2 linked regions of the Homo sapiens genome follow. The protein of the gene in region 2 purifies or fractionates together with the protein of the main gene of each other region. This does not show direct contact. Each region holds a gene or a part of one and is shown on either strand. Other genes may lie near its edges.

Region 1 (3,774 bases), on a different chromosome or scaffold from region 2:
CTGCTCCATCTTGAAGAAGAACATTGGCGTCAACTCTTTTCTGGTCTCAGAGGTGTCTTAAAGAGCTCATCTTAATGTCAATGTGTTTCAGCCATCATCTAGTCACTCTGGTATGAGATCATCATTCATCCAATGACCAAATGTTTAGGAATTTCTAGGGTTCCATTAGAAACCTCCATTAGGGACCCCATTGTCAACATCCCCCACCAGAGTAGTACATTTGTTGTAATTGATGAACCTACATTGATACATCATTATCCCCTAAAGCCCATAATTTACATTAGGGTTCAGTATTGGTGTGTATACTCTAAGGGTTTTGACAAATGCACAACAACATGTATCCACCATTTTAGTCCTATAAAGAATAGTTTCACTGCCCTAAAAATTCTCCGTGCTCTGGTGTTTATTTTTTCCTCTTCCTTAACCCCTGGCAACCACTGATCTTTTTACTGTCTCCATAGCTGTTCTTACAGTAGCTCCCCCTTATCACGGTTTTGCTTTCCTTAGTTTTAGTTACCTGAATCAATCTTGGTCTGAAAATATTAAGAAATTTTGAGATAACTTCAATTAGAGACAATAAAAAGATATTTTGAGAGTGAGAGTCTACATTCACATAGCTTTTATTATAGTGTACTGTTATAATTGTCATATTTTATTATTAGTAATTATTGTCAATCTCTTACTGTGCCTAATTTATAAATTAATTATAGGTATGTCTGTATAGGAAAACACATAGTATATATAGGTATGGCACTGTCTGTGGTTTCAAGCATCCCCTGGGGGTCTTGGAATGTATCTCTCCTGGACAAAGGGGGACTACTGTAGTAAACATAAAAATTAACACATTAACTGCCTTCAAAATGAAGCATTATCCTGTGTATTTAATGACATTATTTCATTTAATCCTCACAACAATTAGAAAACTATGATGACCAACCCACTTTACAGATAAGGATACTAAAGGTTAGTGACATTAGGTAGCTGGTCAAATGTGGGATAAATAGGAAGTCATAGGGTTGAGATTTGGAACTAGGTCTCTCTGATTCTGGTTCTCACCAGATCTCACCTGCCCACTTGAGAAGCTTTTAAAAAACACTGGCACCAGAGTCCTAGACCCTAGACTCTCTGATTTCACTGTCTGGGGTGAGGCCTGAGCAGCAAGGGCTTACAAAGCTCCCTGGTGACTCCCATAAGAGGCCAAAGCAGAGGTCCTTGATGACAAAGATGTGCTCAAGGACAGCTCTTGGGAAGGAGATAAAACATTTAAGGAGGAAAAACAGTGAGGTATAAAATGTTTTTATTTCCTGAATACACACCAGTTGACAATAGAAAAATGCAAACTAGAGGGAAGGCTGGAGCCTGAAATGACAAATCTGCCATTTCATTTTGAAATAGTAGAAATCAAGATGGGAGTTTAATAAGAACATTTGTAATGAATGAGTAATTCTCTCCAGCAATAAACATTAATGAAAATATATAAAGACCTGCTTATATTTCTTCAGATAAATCATCTGAAACACAGATAATTCTAATAAATTTTTTCCATTTCATTTATTACAGGAGAAGTAAAAACTTATAGATGGAATATCCCTAAAAGATCCGGTCCAGGGCCTTCTGATCCCAATTGTATTCCATGGGTTTACTATTCAACAGTAAACTTTGTGAAGGTAAGGTGGAGAAAGCAACCAAAAGGCTTAAAATAATTTGGATGAAAGTTGACTACTTGGGTCATCACAATTTGGGTTGGTATATGTGAAAGCGTATAATGATTTAGAGCAAGGGTCTCATACTATGGCCCATTTACGAAATCTAGACATGCTGGACGTTTACATTGTCAATGGTTGACTTGAGTAGCTGCAACAGAGACTATATGGCCCACAAAGTCAAAAATATTTACTATCTGGTGATTTTTTTTTTCCCAAAAAAAAAAAAAAAAAAAAAAAGTTTGGTGACCCTTGACTTAAAGTATGGGGAATAAAAACAAAATCCCAATGTTTCAATTACCAAATTTAGAACTTAAAAAGATAAAAGGTTTGAAGCAAAAGAGGATATGTAAATATACAACAATAAAATAAATATAACTTAGAGTACAATTTATGTATGGTTTTGGATGTGTGAAATCTGTTTATTTTAAATGCATTATTATCAGGGCTACTAGGGCTCAGGAGAAGAAAGTTCACTCTAAACATAGTAACTGAAACTACAAAATTGTTTGAATGATTAATGATCTAACTTTGAAATAAAAGGCAAAGATTCAACATTGAATTTGAGCCAGGTATGTGTATGTAAAACAACCACAGTCTTTAATTACATGCCATAAACCAAAGTCCAATCTAAAGTCGTTATTTGATGTAAAATGTAAGCATTGCCTATTAAAGAAAAAAAGGGAGGGATTATCATAACCTTCCTCTTAGGTATTAGATGGCTTGTATTAATGTCTTTGAGTTATACTGGACAGTTCTAGAGTTCAGGAGATAGAAATACAAGGCACTTGAATAAATAAACTTACATATGAGAATTATGGGAAAATCCAAATTTATTTATGCATCACAACAAATACTTATTGAGCACTTGTGATGTGCAAATGACCCCACCAAATACTATGAGAGATGCAGATACTCTTGTCTTAAAGAAACTTATAACTTTGTGGGAAAATAATATGTCCACACTTGTAACTGTAATAGAGCTCTGAATCTGGTGAATTCTATAGGAGTGGCAGGCTAACTAAAGTACTATAGAAGGTTTTGGAGGGAGAGTCTAGGAAGAAAGAGCATTATGAGCACAGCTGAAAATAGGGAAGTAGAGGGAGTGTTTGGGACATGTTGAGAGTCCCATTTGGCTATCATATGGGGTCCAGTAGTAAATCAAGGGGTAGCCTAAGTCAGAAAATTTCATTAGGGGAGCACATGGAGGGCTCACAGACCTGCAAGGGTTTGTATTTAATTCTGTAGGCCACGGAAAATCACTGAAGACTTCTAGATACGGGAGTATAAAGATTACTGTGATGGTGGTCAACAGGATGGGCTGGAGGTGGGGTGAATCAGAGCTGAGAGAAGAATCAATTTCTAGTCCAGGGTGAGGTATTATGACCCTACACTAGAATGGTGGCAGGTGGAATGAAATATTATTAAATTACTTAATGGCTCTTTTAACTCAGTTTATTTTTTCTTCCAGGATACGTATAGTGGTTTGATGGGTCCTCTGATTACATGCCGAAAAGGAGTCTTGAATGAAAAGGGAAGAAGAAGTGACGTTGATTATGAATTTGCTCTCTTGTTTTTGGTATTTAATGAGAATGAATCCTGGTATCTGGATGACAATATTAAGAAGTATCTCAACAAAGATCCACGAGATTTTAAGCGCACTGATGATTTTGAGGAAAGCAACAGAATGCATGGTATATCCAAAGTTTAAAAAGAAGCCTATGTTGAGATAAGCTCATAGGAATTCCTGTAAATGTAGGAGGCTCCCAGCATCCTTCTCTGAGCCTTTCCTCCTTCCCAGGGGCACCTGGACTGAAGAAAGTCCTCTAATGCTTTCCTTCAGACTGAACCAGCCTAGCCACTGATTGGCTGGCAGCAAAGTCATTGAGGCTTTGTACTAACTTGTAGGGACATGTATTTCTGAATCCTGGGATCTCTAAGCTCTAAGACTGTAAAGTAATTCTTTAAAAACAAATCATCATTTATTGTCATATTTTTATAAGAATATGCCATAACTTCTATTTGTTTAAATTTAAGGGCCAGGTTTAATTGTCTCTGGGATATGAAACAC
Region 2 (3,600 bases):
AGGATGTACCAGGCCCTGTCCTCATGTTGCCCAGGGTTTCTCCAGTGGTGGCTGTAACCACCTGTATCAGAACCACCAGAGCACATAAGAATGCAGACACCTGGGCTCCAACTCAGACCTACTGGATCAACCCAGGCCCCATTGTGACCCAGGAATCTGTGTTTTCTACAGGCTGATCTCAGCACTCCATGAATCTGAGAGCCGCTGCTGACTGGGAGGGATAGGGAGCCGATTACAGTCCAGTGAGGTCAGGGCTGAGAAAGGACAGGAAATGCAACCGTGAGAGCCCAGTACTGGCCCCTCACTTGACTGTGGAAACCTGTAAGCCGAGGAGACACCTGAACCAGATTGGGCCGGGCAAAGTAGGGCAGGAGAGGCAGTACATCCCACGCAGCAAAACAGCACATGGTGGCCAGGGGCGGTGGCTCACACCTGTAATCCCAGCACTTTGGGAGGCCGAGGTGGGCGGATCACGAGGTCAGGAGATCAAGACCATCCTGACCAACACGGTGAAACCCCGTCTCTACGAAAAGTACGAAAATTAGCCGGGCGTGCCACTGCACTCCAGCCTGGGCAACAGAGCGAGACTCCGTCTCAAAAAAAAAAAAAAAAAATTAGCTGGGCATGGCGGCTCACGCTTGTAATCTCAGCATTTTGGGAGCCGAGGCAGGTGGATCACCTGAGGCCAGGAGTTCGAGACCAGCCTGCCCAACATGGTAAGACCCGGTCTCTACTAAAAATGCAAAAATTAGCCGGATGCGGTGGTGCGCGCCTGTAGTCACAGCTACTCGGGAGGCTGAGACAGGAGAATCACTTGGACCCAGGAGGCTGAGCAAGATCGTTCCACTGCACTCCAGCCTGGGCCTCAGAGCAAGACCCTGTCTCAAAAAACAAACAAACAGACAAAAACAGCACATGCTAGCGGCAGGAGACAAGAGGCTGAGCCCTCCCAGCCCACCTTACCTGCACTGTAATCCAATCCAGCCAGAGACAGAGTCGGGTAGGAGAGGTGAAGGCGGGTGGGAAGGTGTGGCTGTTCACGCAGGAATGTCTTGGGAAAACTGAGGGGTAGGTGGAAAACCGACTTCTTGTTTGAAATGCTCCCAAGACGCCTCATTAAGTAGCATAGACGTGACTGAATCAATAAATCTTTATTAAATGAATGAAAGGAGGAAGGAGTCCTTAACTGTAGCTAAGCTTCCACTCTTAAGTATCAATTAAGCTTCTCTGTTCAGTCCAGCGTTTAGGGCGCCTACTGCGCGCCCCGCCCCACACACTTTTGACAAAAAGGTCGCCTGCTCTGTGTGACTTGCCCTTTCGCCGGCCAGTATGGGGCAGAGGGAAATAAGCCCCCTCTGCTCTCTGGTCTCAGTTTACTCGTAACTGAAAGTGGGTCGGTTCAAACCCCCTGGAGCTGAGGTTGCCTCTCCTCTTCGAGCACGCGCTATCGGACGCGCAGGTCCCCAAGACCGCGGATCGGCAGGGGGTACCAGGGAAGCCTTCATTCAGGGCGCAGGTCCCAGCCGAACCAAAGCTCCCACCAAAGTTCAACACGCCCCCAAAGCCAGCGCCTGATTGGCCCGCCCTGCCCACAAGCTGAGGCAGCCTCACCTTCTGATTGGCTGTTATGCTCCCTGTTCGGTGCTGGAACCCTCCCCTTCTCTGATTGGCCAGATGCCTACCTGCGCTCGCCCCAGATTGGGCGCCAGCTGGGGCGGCTCGTTGGCTCCCAGGGGCCCCGCTCTCTGATTCGCCGCTCGGGCCAGCCCCCACGGCCTGCACGCTGAATGGCTGCGCCGCTACCTATATTGGCCTCCGATTGGGTGCACGGCGCCTCCCCGGCGTGATAGGTCAGGACCACCGCCCCCCTGGCTCCCCATTGGCTGCTCGAAGAAGCCCGGTCTCCGGGTAAGATGGCAGCGGACGGACAGTGCTCGCTCCCCGCTTCATGGCGGCCGGTGACCCTCACCCACGTCGAATATCCTGCAGGTAAAAGGCGGTCCCGGCTCCAAGGACGCCTTCCCAGGGACGGCCTCTCAGTCCCGGGCGCTCCGGCCTGCTCGAGCCCGCGGAGGGGGCGCCGGGGGACCGGGGTGGGAACTGTCAAATAGTGAACCACGGAGGGGCTCGGCCGGCGCGCGCGCCGCGCAGGCGCAGTGGTGCGAGGATGAGCTGGGCGAAATTGTGAGGCGCTCGCTCGCGCACTCTGCGGCTGCGCGGCCAGGGCGCTCCCCCGGGTCCCGGGGCGCCGGTGGGCTGAAATGGGTTGAGGATCTGTGTGAGGCGAGAAAAGATCCCTGGCCTGGACCTTGGCCCTTCTTCCCCGCCCTCCCCTGTCCCAGAGAGGCCGCACTCCTGTTCCAGCGTGCAGGGAGTGTCTTGTTTCCTTCGAACAGTGCTTTGGGCTGCTTGTAAGAGAAAGAGCTCCCCGTTGCTGGGAGTGTGCAAGCCGAAGCCAGGCTTTTGAGTACTTGTGGTGCCACGCCCTGAGCAGGGCACGATTCCACAACAGAGAGGACCCGATGAGGGGGCGGGCAGCCTCCGGGAACTTGACTTCTGTTGCTTCCCATCAGACACACCTCTCGAAGTGCAGGGCTTTCCAGTTGAGAGGTCCATTAGCGGCGTTCTGGAGGCTGTCTAGTAAGAGTGGCGCAGAGCCTGGGCGTGGGGGTCAGACCCATCTGGGCTCCAGTTGAGGCTGAGGCCTTGTGCAGGTGCCTGCCTCTGCTTAAGTTAATTCATCTCTAAAGTGGGACTGATTACAGTGCTTACCTTCTGGTGATGGTATGAGCATCAAATAGCAGGAGGCACAAGAAGGGCTGAGTACAGTGCCCGGCATGCAGTAAGCGTTCAGTAAATACCTGCAGTTAATGTTATCCCACCTTGCAAGACCCTCCCTGGGTAAGATGGTTGAGTGCCAGGGAAGGCTGGAGCCCCTCATTGAGCCCTGGTTGCCTGGGAAGGGCCTGCTCATGCTGCTGTCTTGCGAGATGTGAGAACCTGGGTCCGCTGAGGGCACCAGGACTGAATGCCAAAGAACGTTGACGCTGGTGTTCTGGGTTGTACTGGGGGTGGTATGGCCCTGCCAGGTCCTGGGCCCTGCCTGCCTGCCTGTCTACCATTCATTCATCCATTCATTCATTCAGTCAATATCCACTGAACACTTCTGAGTGCTAGGCCCTGGGCTAGCTCTGGTTTTTAGAATGCTTAACAGGCCTGAAATATCCCTGCATTCCTGCACTATGAAAACCAGCTGCTTTATAAGAGGAAAGCCAAAGCCTGGAGGTGGGGAAAGACTTGCTAAGGCCTCTGCACCTTCACAGCTTCCCCTCCTGGCCTCAGAGTAGCTTCTTGGAGTGCTCACAATCCAACAAGCCAGAAGGAACCTGGCAGGCAGTTGTGTGCAGCATGATACAGGCTGTGATGGACCTGGCTGAGCCTGGAGCATCTGGTGAGGTCTAGTCCCCTATTAATGCTTCCATGGTTCCCTGCACTTCTCCGTCACACCCCTCTTCACACCGTCACTTGCTTACTTCATTCATTCAACAGTTTTTGAGCCCAGTTAAGAGCCAGGCCCTGTGCTGGGCTTGGGGGATAGAG

The links.
Region 1: the proteins of DOLPP1 (region 2) and HEPHL1 purify together in Homo sapiens (affinity purification with mass spectrometry; 3 studies listed by BioGRID and IntAct, with this or other methods). This does not show direct contact.

The regions. Positions count from the first base shown.
Region 1 is NC_000011.10:94,101,354-94,105,127, forward strand, and holds part of HEPHL1 (ferroxidase HEPHL1 precursor), read left to right. Parts: intron 1-1,560; coding exon 1,561-1,667; intron 1,668-3,174; coding exon 3,175-3,397; intron 3,398-3,774. UniProt on the Homo sapiens protein: Is a copper-binding glycoprotein with ferroxidase activity. It oxidizes Fe(2+) to Fe(3+) without releasing radical oxygen species. May be involved in the regulation of intracellular iron content.
Region 2 is NC_000009.12:129,079,219-129,082,818, forward strand, and holds the start of DOLPP1 (dolichyldiphosphatase 1), read left to right. Parts: upstream 1-1,892; 5' UTR 1,893-1,913; coding exon 1,914-1,989; intron 1,990-3,600. UniProt on the Homo sapiens protein: Required for efficient N-glycosylation. Necessary for maintaining optimal levels of dolichol-linked oligosaccharides. Hydrolyzes dolichyl pyrophosphate at a very high rate and dolichyl monophosphate at a much lower rate. Does not act on phosphatidate.